Regions from separate parts of the Homo sapiens genome. Here all the other regions are reported to be linked to region 4. Evidence: microRNA targets listed by miRTarBase, many of them from high-throughput screens and not tested one by one. Region 4 holds a microRNA gene; each other region holds the end of a gene's coding sequence.

Region 1 (3,104 bases), not on the chromosome of region 4:
AATCCTACATGCAGGACTTAAAGTTCCCTTAACCAGCACCCAGAGAGTATCCTTTCCAGTTTGCTAGTATCTGCTCTTCTAAGTTAACCTGTTTCGGTTAGCATTTGAATTTGCAACTTCTGTTCTGTAGTCTTTTGGTGCATTAAAAGATAATACATAGAATAATAGATATTCTTAACCTCCTGTTAAAAAGAGAATAATAGATATTCTTGACTTCCTATTCCTCCAACAAGATAGCATTACACTAAACACATGCATATGCTTGGGTATTTGTGGGAAATGCTGTGGAAGAATCAGACTACATCTCAATGGCCATTTCATTTATTAGGTAGTCGTTTAATTTTTGTGTGAACTTCTTGTCCATTACGCTTAATATTATGCCTCATTTGGAATCTGCTGTGAAGCTGTACAGTGTGGTTTCTTCTGGACACAACTTGATAAATTCTTGTTACTAATTACAGGTTTGATCATTCCGGCAAATTGTGTGTCTCCTCTTGTAAATCTCCTATCAACTTCAGACCAGTCTCAACAGCTTGCGGTCCAACAGAAACAGCTATGGCAACAGCATCACCCTCAGAGCATCACCAACTTGAGCAACGCATGAAGAACAGACAGGTTTCAACATGGATGGATCTGAAATGCTGTTGAAGCATATCATTTGCATAAAAATCAGGGACAGTTTCCAAAGAATTATATATTTTTTTCAGTTGTGCTCTCTAGTTAGTTTTTTTGGGAGTAAGGACAAACCTGGAATAGATAGCAAAACTGAAAATCAGCAGTGCTGATGGTGGTACATATGTCTTTCCTTTAGCTTCTCCCCTGATAATTCCCATCTGCTTTTACTTCGGGTGAGCAGAGGGGGATGTGTGTGTGCGTGTGTGTCAGTCTGTTTGTGAGTGTGTTAAAGGCTACAGACCACAGTTGGTTTAAAATGCTTGGAACTTCCCAAACTGGCTTTACTTTATGTTTATACAGTGCTCAGGGTTAACGCAGTACATCCATGCCATTGCTGTGGGAGGTATCCCCGGATGCATGTGTTTTGAGTCTATAAATATAGAAAATATATATTGGTTTCTTTTTCCAACTTAATAGGTTTATTAAAGCATGAAATGAAAGGTTGCATATCATGCATTCAGGTTATTTTCTAATTTTTGTTCTGACAGTGCATGTCTTTGGAAGCATGCTGAAACAAGATTAACACAGGAGTCGAGTAACAGAGAGAAACATTTGTTAGATGTACAGCATTGGTTATTGCATTTTTATAGTGTTTATACCTGGGTATTGCTTCAAACCCTGCAGACCCCTCCTTCCCCTTCTCCCTGCCCTGGGTTTCTGGTCAAGGTAATGAATACATACATTTTTCTGTGATAAAACTCTTAAAAGTTAATTTTAATGTATTAATAGTATTCCTAATGTGTGCTGCAGAAATGGCTATGAGCCTCTTAAATTTACATTTGCAACTTAAAGGTAGTTTTAGAAGGAAGTACAAATTGGCTTTCATCTTGCAAACAATCGTTTTTTACTTCATTATCTTAATTTGCTTTGTCACTCATAAAAAGGAAACCATACCTGAGTTGTAGACAATGAGGAAACACTTGAGGCTTCTGCTGTGTGTTCTTTTGTTATTGTTGTTATTGTTGTTACTCAGTAACTTGAATATTGTTTAATGTGTTGTAAGACGTAGAGTTTATCTCAAGCTGTTAAAAATGGTAATGTACAAATGTGAATAGACACTTATCTATATAATATGGGTAAGTTTTGTTTCGCCTATAATAGATGTTTATAAAAACAAGTGAGGGGACAGTTGGTCTTTTTATCTTTTCTTTCTTTTTCTTTCTTTTCTTTTTTTCTTTTTTTTTTTTTTTTTTTTTTTTTTTGCTTCCACAGGTTGCACTATTGAAAAATCGAGATTGTATAAACCTGGTAAAAAGCTGCAAGATGCCAAAATCTTGTAGATGTCAAATAAAAAGTTATTATACTAACAAGAAGTGGACTCTTGTTTAGGCCCTCACTGGTGACCTTCAGAAGTAGTCTGTGACGGGGACTCAGCAGAATTTGTGTGTTGTCTCAGCATTCCAGGTAGCCTTATAGTTTGGCTTAAAACTTATCCCTAAAATGTAAGATGGCATTGAGGGAAAGGGTATAATGATAGTACTTCTGAATGTTTTTTAAGTTGAATTGTTTGTAAACTTCTTGCAGAATTGGGTGAGATGTGTGTTAAAACTGACAAACCTGGCTGAAAGCTTAGGGCGTTCATCCTCTTGTGTCTCCTTTAGCCTGAGTTTGGTTATGTCAAGCTTACCGTAAGTTTTCTTAGGATTTATTTATTCTTGGTGCCTAAAAGAATAAATTGAAAGTACTTTCTGTTCTTTGGCACATTTTGCCCAGCGGATGCAACTTCTATCCTCAGTCCAGTTCATATATCTCAGGCAGTGATCCATTTTGTATCAGCCAGTTTCCCTTGTTAGGGCCGCTAGACCCGGCTGGCAGCCAAGAGCAGCACTCTCCCCACCTTCAGCAGAACTTCTCAGCTCATGTGTGTGTTTTTAAAAGCAGTAGGCAGCTTCCATCAGCAATGGAAGTGTCCCCCACTCCAGTGGTGGAGGTGCAGTCGCTGGACCTGAGGAAGTGGGGAAGCATTACAAACCCTCCTGCAGTAAGAATGGCAGAGTTGGGAAGGATCTTCTCTCGCAGGCTGTTGGCCCAACTCCTCTTTTCTGTGTATGAGGGCATCTTAGTTTTTTATGGCGTTTTCAAAGCAGCATATGAGGATTCTTAGCATGCAGCTAAGTGACAACCCCCATGGCCTATGATGTAATGTTTGCTCTGGACTAGCCATCTTGATAAATAGGAGTGTATGTATCTTAGGTTCTTTGTAGAACAGCTATTTTTTTTTCTCATTAAAAAGGCCTCTGAAAGCCCTCTCAAAATGGACCTCACAAAGGCAACCAGTGTGAATGGATGGGAGCTGGGGTGCTGCATGCCCAGGCTGGTCATGGTGTGTGCAGCACCCAGAGAGTTGCACCCACCCCTTCTTCAGGTGGACATCCGACCTTTACACTGTGGTCTTGCAAAAATCAGCGAGTTAGTTTGGCCGCCCTGTG
Region 2 (3,000 bases), not on the chromosome of region 4:
ACCTGAGGCCTGGTCATCACGTCATCCTAGCTGTGTGACCCTGGTTCCATGTCGGAACCTCTGAGTCTGCACAAAATGAGGACAGGAGTCGAGGTTAGCTGAGATGACATCCAAGGCCCGAGACCATGCAAAGAGGATCCCACCAGGGTGTTTTCTCACCCCCCACCGCACAGCCTAGTTGAGGAGGTGGGAGGGAGGACGTACCTCTTAGGCCTCAGCCCCTCATCCCTCAGGGGCAGGGTAGGGTGAAGAAGGCAGAAGGCAGGACTTCCTCTGGGTCCTACCAGCAAATCATCCCAATGGGAAGGCACTGGGTTTTTTGTTTTTGTGATGGAGTCTCACTCTGTCGCCCAGCTGGAGTGCAATGGGGCAATCTCAGCTCACTGCAACCTCTGCGTCCCGGGTTCAAAGGATCCTCCTGCCTCAGCCTCCTGAGTAGCTGGAACTACAGGCATGTGCCACCACACCTGGCTAATTTTTGTATTTTTTTTTTTTTTAGTAGAGACGGGGTTTCACCATTTTGGCCAGGCTGGTCTCGAACTCCTGACCTCAAGTGATCTGCCCGCCTCGGCCTGTTTTTGTTTTTGAGATGGGATCTCACTCTGTCACCCAAGCTGGAGGCAGCTGTGCAATCATGGCTCACTGCCGCCTCGACCTCCTGGGCTCAAGTGATCCTCCCACCTCAGCCTCCCTAGTAGCTGGGACCACAGGCATGCGCCACCATGCCCAGTTGGGAAGACACTGTTCCTCTGAGAAACAGTTACGGGCCCTATTGCCAGTCACCGCTGACCACACAGCCCTAAAGAGTCCTAGGGCCTGGGGGGCCTCTGTGTCCAAGGCTAAGGGTCCCTGTGTCATCAACCGCTAGGCCTAGGTCGGAGAGCACTTGAACTGTCTTGGGGCCTGATGGGCCCAGGAAGTTTCCAGCCCTCTCCAGCTGCCTTACCACAGCTCAGGGGTGTGGGCAGCAGCCGTTTCCATGGCTGAGGCAAGGCTCCTGGCCCACCTCATAGTTCAGAGGCCCTCTTTTGGGACCCACTCCCCCTCACCCCCATGTAAACAAGCTACCACTGCAAGTTCATATTTTATTTCCAATAGGTTTGGAGCTTTGTTGATTTTTGCATTTTTGTAAAAAAGGAAAAAGTTTTCACTTAATTCATTGAAAGCCCTTTCGTGCTGAGCCCAAGGGGGAGCCTGGGCCAGGACCAGACCCTCTCAGCCCTCTTGTTCCTACCGCAGACACCCGGTGCTGGGGGTGCGGCTGCTCCCCTCCGCCCACTCTGCCCTCCCGCCCCTGCTGCATCTCTCTCTGTACAGAACAATTTTTAAAATGGAAGCTAAGACACAATATACACTGGACAGGCACACACACACGCACACAGGCGTCCGCCCAGAACAGGGCGGGACACCAGCTGCACTCAGAGAGCACCAAGGAATGCAAACGGAGCCCCTCCGGGTAGGAGGGCAGGGCCTGGGCCCCCTTGGTCCTCAGTCCTCAGTCCGCACTCCTCCCCGCCAATTGCCCTGCTAGCTGCCAGAGAGGGGAGGGGGCAGGGAGAGCTGGGGGCAGCTGGTTGGGGGCGGTGGTCATAGAATGAGTACCAGCCTGGTAGGCGGCCCTGGGGCCAGGGAGGCTCTTGTGGGGAGTCCGGGGAGGGGCGGCGGGGGGAAGGACTGAGGGTGGACCCTCAGGAACCTGAGGGCTGGAACTCCTGGGCCTTGCCCCTCAAGGAGCTTCAAGGGCCCAGGTGTCAGGAGTGGGGCTGGCCCTGCAGCACTGGCCTCCAGCCCTTGCTGTTCTCCCCAAGACTAAATTAACATTTGGTAAACTTAGGAGCTAAGCCAGCTGAGACCCCCAGCACTCCCCCTCGGGCCTCCCTGAGGCCCTCACAGCTGGGGGCCAGGCCTGCTCTGGGGGACCCACGTCTTCCACACTCCACCCTTGCCCTGGCAAGGAGGTAGGGGGAGCAGGGCCTGCCCTGAGGGCTTCTCCCTTCCCCTTAGTGCCTTCCAGTCCCACCCTTCCCTGCTCAGGCCCCAGGAAGAAGTTAAAAATAGTTAGTTCCTACATTAAAAAAGAGACAGAACCAGATTCTCTGCCAAAAGGCCAGTGGGAGAAGAGGGGATGTCATCTCTGCAGTGGGAAGGGCAGGGAGTGGGTAGGGGAGGACTGCAAAATAGTTTCTTCTTTTAAAAAGTGCTTGGTAAGTCTTTTAAAGTGTGTGTCTATATCTATGTACAGATATACACACAGACACTGTCCACACCACCACGCATACCTGCACACATACGGAAATGTATACATATACATACATACGGAAATGTATACATATACATAATCATATACATATACATACATACATACACATATATATATATATTCATATATATATATATACTTTAAAAAGTCCTAGGTGAGAAGATCTGGGCCAGGCTGGGCCAGGCCTGCAGGGTCACGACTGGAGGGTGTGGGCCCGGCCAGGCTGGCAGATGGGGCACTCGCTGCCCTCAGCGCAGAGCTCACACAGCGCAGCGTGTTGGCACGGCAGCACTGCCCGCTTCTGTTCCTGACACTTAAGGCATTTCACCGACTGCATGTGGAACACGGCCTGCAGGGAAAGGGGCATCGTGGTCACCATCCATGGGTCTGGCCCCAAGTTGAGCGAGGAGTTCCCTTGATCCTCACTGCAGCCCCTTGGGATGGGAAAACTGAGGTACCGAGCTCAACAGTGTGCTCCCAGACCCCTGTTGGCAGGTGAGAGAGCAGGCTGAGTCCACCTCTGCATGGGGCATGGCCAGGCTGCCACAAGACCCACCCCTCAGAGAGGCTTCGCCCAGTCTCATTTGACCTTGTAATCCCCAGATGGGGAAAATGAGGCCCAGAAAGGGCTGGGACATGCCCAGGGCCACACCCGGGGGCTTGGCTGCCCGAGAACAGAGGAAAGACAGCTCTTCCCACCATGCCACGTTGGCCCCGGGGACCCAGCAGGAGACCTGGGA
Region 3 (3,104 bases), not on the chromosome of region 4:
ACTCTTTTCCAGTTGCTGCTTTCTTCCAAGATCGGGTAGGAGGAGCTCTCCCTCACCGCCTCCCAGTGAAGAAAAGGACCATTTAGAAGTGTGGGCTCCAGTTGTTGACTCTGAGGTTCCTTCCTTGGAAAGTCCCACTCTCCCACCCCTCTCCTCACCATTATGCTGTGATTTTGGAAGACCCAAAGAGGGAACCTCCACTCTTCAGTCTGTGAGGAGGGCTGTGGGAGGAGATCATGCTGTGCCTTTGGACCCTGGTCAGTTAGAAACAGTTTTGGAAAAGTGAGCTCTGGGTTCTGCTCTGAGATGGTCAGAGAAGATGCGGGCCAGGAGACTTACTCAGGTGGGACTGGGCACAGGGCAGGTATGTGGGAGGCTGGGCTGCTTAGTGTCTTCTAGTCACCTCTGCTTGGGCTGATTGACAGAGGTCAGTCATTACAGCCCCTTATGCCTCTTCCATGGGAACAAATACTGTGCAGATGTTTGTAAGTTAAACATAAGACACAGGGGCTGTTGCTTTTGAACAGAACCCTATATTACTCTCCTGGGATCTGAGTTTCTGCAGGTCATTTGTATGTAGGACCAGGAGTATCTCCTCAGGTGACCAGTTTTGGGGACCCGTATGTGGCAAATTCTAAGCTGCCATATTGAACATCATCCCACTGGGAGTGGTTATGTTGTATCCCCATCTTGGCTGGCTTCAGTTTTTGCTGTAGCCCTAGAGCACTTTGTTTGTGGGAGGCTGGCCTCTTGCCTACCTCCTTGCATGGACAGGGGGATGAATATTTACTTTCCCACCTCCTTGCTTTTTCTTTCACTGATACCACTGAATGGAACTGGTGCTGTGACTCCTGCTGCTGGGGATTTATGTCCCGAGACCTTAGCCTGGCTGAGTGGAGCCTGAGACCTGCACAACAGCTCATGGTCATGCATGAGAGAGAAGTGGCTGGCCACAGCCAGAGGGAACAGTAACAGCCCAGGGGCCTTTATTTTGGGAAAGGCTGTCCCGGGCTGTTACTGTCTCTTCTGGTTATAAAGCAGACATGTGGCCATCTTTTCCGCAGGGTTAGAGTGGGCTCCTTTCTTTTTGGAATCCTTTTCTTCTCCTTTGGTAGCAGCTCCCTGCCTCCAGGGCTTCCGCCACCAGCGTCTCTGCTGTGTTGCGCAGTGCAGTGGGGTGCAAGGGCTTTGTTTCTGCCTGCCTGAAAGAGAGGGCTCTGGGGATGGAGATGAGAAACAACACGCTCTCCTTCAGACAATGAGGCATTCTGTCCTCCTGCTGCCATTCTTCATCTCCACTGAGAGCCAGAGCTGGTAGGAGCCGAGTGCCACAGGCATTCTGCATTGCTCTACTCTTAGGTTTGTGTGTGTGATCCTTCCCCTCCCTGTCGCCCACTCCTCCCTCCTCTGGCTATCCTACCCTGTCTGTGGGCTCTTTTACTACCAGCCTATGCTGTGGGACTGTCATGGCATTTAGTTCAGAGTGGAGGGGCTTTGGCCTGAAATAAAATGCAAGTATTTAAGATTGTTGTTGCAATTTGTGTCTAACAAGCTGTAGCAGAGAAGGAGGGAGTGAGCGCTGGCAGTATTTCCTTTCATAAATCATGAATTTATCAGTGTGGAAATAATGCTTCAGAACTGTGCTCTGTAGCCCTCCTGCATTGTGTGTGCAGCTCAAGTTCACCACTGGAGGAAGGATTGTCTTCCAAAGAGCTGGGATCCAACTCTTCTCACAGTTCTGGGCGTGAACCTTGTTAGGTATAATTTACCTGATGCTGCTTCCATCCTCGCAGTCTGTCTGAGGTGCCAGGTGCTGAAAGAGAAATAAAGTTTGTCAACAGGCAGATGCAAAGCCCTGGCTGGTATTCATCCCTCTTTCCTGCCCGCCTCCCCTGGGTCTCTCCTTTATATGATGCAGCAGAGCAAGGCGAGGATAGAAAACCTACAGAGGCAAATCCAAAATGTCAGAAGAAGTTCATTTAAAAGGGGAAAAAAACTCCATGTGCAACCCTCACAAAAACCCGACAGATGCTAAGCTAATGGCATCCGCTCTGCCGATTGGTGGGGATGGCTCATGAATATTAATGAGCCCAATGCTCCAAATGGTGCAGCTGTGAACCCAGCTGTGCCTGAAGCTCTCTGATCTCGAAACTTCCAGACAGGAGCTGGAGGTGGTCTGTGTCAATTCCCTACTCAGCCAAAAAAACAGCAAGCTGGGTTGGCCTTCTTCTGTTTGCTCCTTTTCTTCCTGGAGTTGGTGCTCAGCAGCTAGTTCTGCCAGCCGGCTAGGCTGCTGGGACAGCAGGAGCCATTCAAAGACATGGATGTGATTTTTCTGACTCCCAGCTTTTTTAATGATCCATTAGCAGCATGCATACAACAGCACCTCAGTTAATCTAAGGCCAGGCACCATCTCTTTTCAGTCTCTCTCTTAACTGAGTATAGGCCTTGGAAGGAGAAGTCCTAGGAAGGAAAGCACTTTTCTAATAATACAAGCCTAGGGTCATCCGAAAAATAGCGCACATGAGTTTTCCTCTCCATCCAGATAGTGCCATAGGCCCCTCTTCTGTTTTGCTCTGTCCCTGCGTGTGCCCAGGTCTAGCCACTGTGGCCAGATGACCTCTATGAAAGATGGAGGATTAGCTGTGGGGAGTGGCTCATTGAGCTGTTTTGTAGGATAAAAATATTTTGTTTAGAATTTAGTTTTGAGTCAAGTTCTGTCCTGATGTAGTCACCTTTCTTCTGTCAGATACCTCCATGGCCCACATCTAGTCATCCATTACCCAGGATGACTGATTCCAAGCTTGTGGAGGTTGTTTGGTGGGAGGAAATGTGTTTGTGTGTGAGGGGGGTGTTTTCTTACATTAAAATACTAAGTTTTATAAACATAATTTTATTGGCCCTTCTCAGTGCCTAGCAAGGAAGGTAGGTTAGGTATATGCTCCTTTTTTCGTTGAGGAAACTGAGCTCAATGTTTTTGTGTGTGTTTTTTTATTTGTTTGTTTGTTTGTTTTGAGATGGGCAGCCTTTGCTGCCCAGGCTGGAGTGCAGTGGTACAATCTCGGCTCACTGCAACCTCCACCTCCCGGGGTCAAGCAGTTCTC
Region 4 (3,104 bases):
CCCCTTTTTATAAGGACAACATTCATATTGGATTAGGGTCCACCCTAATGACCTCACTTTAATTCGGCTACTCTATAAAGACCACAACCCTAAATAAGGTCACACTCTAAAGTACTGGGGGTTAGAACTTCAACACATGAACTTGCAGGGGAGACACAATTCAACCCATAGCACCACCCTGGAAGCTGGAGAACAAGGAAAGAAACAGTTTCTGGAGCCTAAGACAAGATAAGCTGGAACAAAGAGGGCCTGCCAAGATGGGTAGCAGGGATCACACAGAGATGGCTGTGTAGTGGGAACTGCAGCCACAGAAGAGACTCCTGAGAAAGAGAAGCAGGAGAAGTACTCTGGCTTCTCCTTCCTTCACCTCCAATATCTTTTGCCCTCCCTCACTCCCCATTGGCTGAACTTTACTGGAAGGCAGTTGGCTCTGGAGCCTGGAACAGCCCCCAGTGACACAGAGCAGATCGGGGGACCACGGGATGGGAAGGGTGGACATGGCTCTGACAGCAACAATGTAACACCCATGCAACGAGTCTGCGAGGCCGAATGGAAGCCAGCTGGCTGCAGGGGAGAGAGCAAGAGAGTCTGGCAGAAGGTGCACCTGGAGAAGGAAGTAGAGGCCAGGCCAGGTAGGAGTTTGGTCTGCATGCTAAGAGCCATAGAAATATCCAAAGGTTTTTAATAGAGCTGGGGGAGAGGCGGTGATGTGATCAGAGATGTGTTTTGAAAAGACCTATCTGGCTATGAAGTGGAGAGTGGGTTGAGGATAGTGGGGCAGATCAGTTAGAAGGCTACGCCTAAGAGAAAGCCTGTTTTACAAAAAGAGGGAGCTCCTGCTGCCCCTCTCTTTCCCTGGAGTTTTCATACCCTCCACGTGTACTAGACATGTGTATCTGCCAGTCAAAGCCACCCCTCCCCTGGTGCAGAGGCCCGCTCCAAGCTCTCATTGCCCAGTGTCCTTTTTCTAGATCCTCTCCTGGTTCACTTCCTTTCTCTCTGGGCAGTCCTTCCCATGCTGCAACACTGATTCTTCTTTTGTCACCCACCTGCTGCAAGGGGGGCCCTTGTCACCCATCTCACCCATCACTCTGGCTTAATGGTGCTGACTGAGTCCACGGCTTTGGTGGCCACCCATATGTTGCTGCTGCTTCTCAGATCTGTATTTCCAGACATGATTTCTCTCGTGAGAAAAATCAGCCTGCCAGATATCTCCACTGGAATGTCCAAAGGAATTGGAATCATGAGCTCAGCATGTCTAAAACTGAACACATTATCTTCCCCTCGCACGTGGACCCCTGTAACCTGCCCTTCATCCTGTGTTCCCTATCCTCCTTATGTCCCACCCCCACTCCTGTTTGAATATTTCACCAGAAACAGGAGTGGGGGGTGGGACGTAAGGAGGATGGGGGAAAGAACATCATCCTAAACTATTCCCTCTTACTCCCCCACATCCCATTGCTGTCCAAGTCCTGTTGGCTCTGTCCTAGATATCTGTCAAAATCCACTTTTCCTGCTACTTCCCTAGCCCAGGTCCTCATTTTTATGTGGGTTCATGCAGTGGTCTCCTAGCTGGCTTCCTGCCTCAAGCCTTGCCCTGGCCGGTCCACTTTTCCTACAATCAAAGTGACATCTACCAGTGTAAATAGATCATGTCCTTTCTCTGCTTAAAATCCCTTCAGTGATTTCTTATCGTCCTCAAGTCAAGTCTGATTACTATCTCTGCACAGTGCCCAGCCCACAATAAATGATTGGTGATTAAATGAATAAATGACAAACCAATATAGAAAAATTGCTAAGTGTGGAAATGAAGAAAAGATGCCATTTTTTTTCCCCTGGAAGTCTTTCCGACTGTCCAAGACTCAATCTGGATCTATCCTTGGGTGTGTTTGTATTGTACTTCTCACACTATACTAAACCCATCTACTTACCTGTCTGTTTCCTACTGGAATGTTCCTTGGTTGCTACTATATCTCTTAGCACAGCTCCTGGAAGAAAGTAAATGCTCAAAAAATATTTGATGAATGAATGAATGATAAGGAGAGCTCTGGGCTGGGGCTGACTATGAAATGCTTATTAGGAGCAGAGTGTGTCTGTCCTGGTTCCAAAGCACTGGGGGAACCAGGATGGGTAGAGAGGCTGAAGGCAAGCCCTTTAGGGGAAGGATAGCAGTGACGAAGGCTGAAAGATCAACAGCAATACATTTTTCTCAGGAGACTTCTTTGGGGCAGTGTTTTCTAAGCTGGGTTCCAGGGACCACTGGTCTTGCGAGATGCTCTATCTAGGGTTCTATATCAAATCAGCATGTAGAAACATGCAGCCCATACCCCTTGTGTACATCAGCATCTCAAAGAGTCTGAGAAGTCCTGCAGTTGAAAAACCAACACTTTAACCCTTTTAACTCAGTATTTCCTGAACTTATTCCATAAGTTTGAATATACAAAAATAAAGTTTTTTGCTTAATACTCAGCAACACCCCCTTCCACAAGATATACTGGAATAAATAGTGTTTGGTGGTCATGAGTATTTTAGGAAAAGGGCAGGAGAAGCTTGAATTTCCCCCAGTGTGCCTTGGGTGAGCACTGTGGTTATAGCCACTTGATGAGAACAGTCAGAGGAAGGCTGCTCTGGGCCATCAAGTGCAGACTGTATAGGACAGGAGAAGGGTGGGAACAGAGACACCCCTGAAGGGGTTGTAGATTCAGGGGGAAAGGTGATGGATGGCCTGGACAAAGATTGTGGTGGAAACAAAATCAATGGGCACACGATTTTCCCTTCTTGGAAGAACCTCTGAAAGGAGAAGCCCTATTCACCCCGACTGCCTGGCTTAGGCCACACCCCTAGAAATGCAGCTACAACCAGGGCAAACCATCAACAGCATCTTCTCAGCACCCATGCGATCCCAAGTAGGCATCCGAGGACATGCAAAAGAGAAGCATGTGTCCTTTTGTGGTCAAAGTCTGTTTTCTCTCTTGGAGCAGGTATGCTTCTGATGGTGCTGCAAGCAGCAGGGGGTAAGGCTGCAAGCTGGGCTAAAAACAGCCCCACCCCCTCTAGCCACAATCAGCTGTGGGATAAAAGCCCCTAAAGACCAAGACTGTACT

The links. The annotated mature microRNA hsa-miR-4433b-3p reads CAGGAGUGGGGGGUGGGACGU and lies in region 4 at 1,378-1,398, shown strand. An mRNA with a match to its seed (bases 2 to 7 or 8) in the 3' UTR can be bound and repressed. Matches are read on the target gene's strand: a 7mer-m8 pairs with bases 2 to 8, a 7mer-A1 pairs with bases 2 to 7 and ends in A, and an 8mer does both.
Region 1: the mRNA of SBNO1 is a reported target of hsa-miR-4433b-3p. The part of its 3' UTR that is shown has no 7-base or 8-base seed match.
Region 2: miRTarBase lists UNK as a target of hsa-miR-4433b-3p. Seed matches in the 3' UTR shown: 7mer-m8 at 1,754-1,760.
Region 3: the mRNA of SNX11 is a reported target of hsa-miR-4433b-3p. Seed matches in the 3' UTR shown: 7mer-m8 at 1,394-1,400.

What each region holds. Positions count from the first base shown.
Region 1 is chr12:123,293,408-123,296,511 of GRCh38, reverse strand. It overlaps SBNO1 (strawberry notch homolog 1), which reads left to right. Exons shown (of 32, transcript NM_001167856.3): 32 at 462-3,104. The coding sequence ends at 604. Among named protein-coding and RNA genes, the nearest start is that of CDK2AP1, 23 kb to the right of the region's middle.
Region 2 is chr17:75,823,871-75,826,870 of GRCh38, reverse strand. UNK (unk zinc finger) reads right to left here. Exons shown (of 16, transcript NM_001080419.3): 16 at 1,072-2,609. The coding sequence ends at 2,454. Among named protein-coding and RNA genes, the nearest start is that of UNC13D, 19 kb to the left of the region's middle.
Region 3 is chr17:48,121,223-48,124,326 of GRCh38, forward strand. SNX11 (sorting nexin 11) reads left to right here. Exons shown (of 7, transcript NM_013323.3): 7 at 13-2,379. The coding sequence ends at 286. Among named protein-coding and RNA genes, the nearest start is that of SNX11, 15 kb to the left of the region's middle.
Region 4 is chr2:64,339,063-64,342,166 of GRCh38, reverse strand. MIR4433B (microRNA 4433b) reads left to right here and starts at 1,319; the gene lies at 1,319-1,420. MIR4433A (microRNA 4433a) reads right to left here and starts at 1,408; the gene lies at 1,328-1,408. It overlaps LOC105374768 (a long non-coding RNA gene), which reads left to right and starts at 458. Exons shown (of 3, transcript NR_189739.1): 1 at 458-632.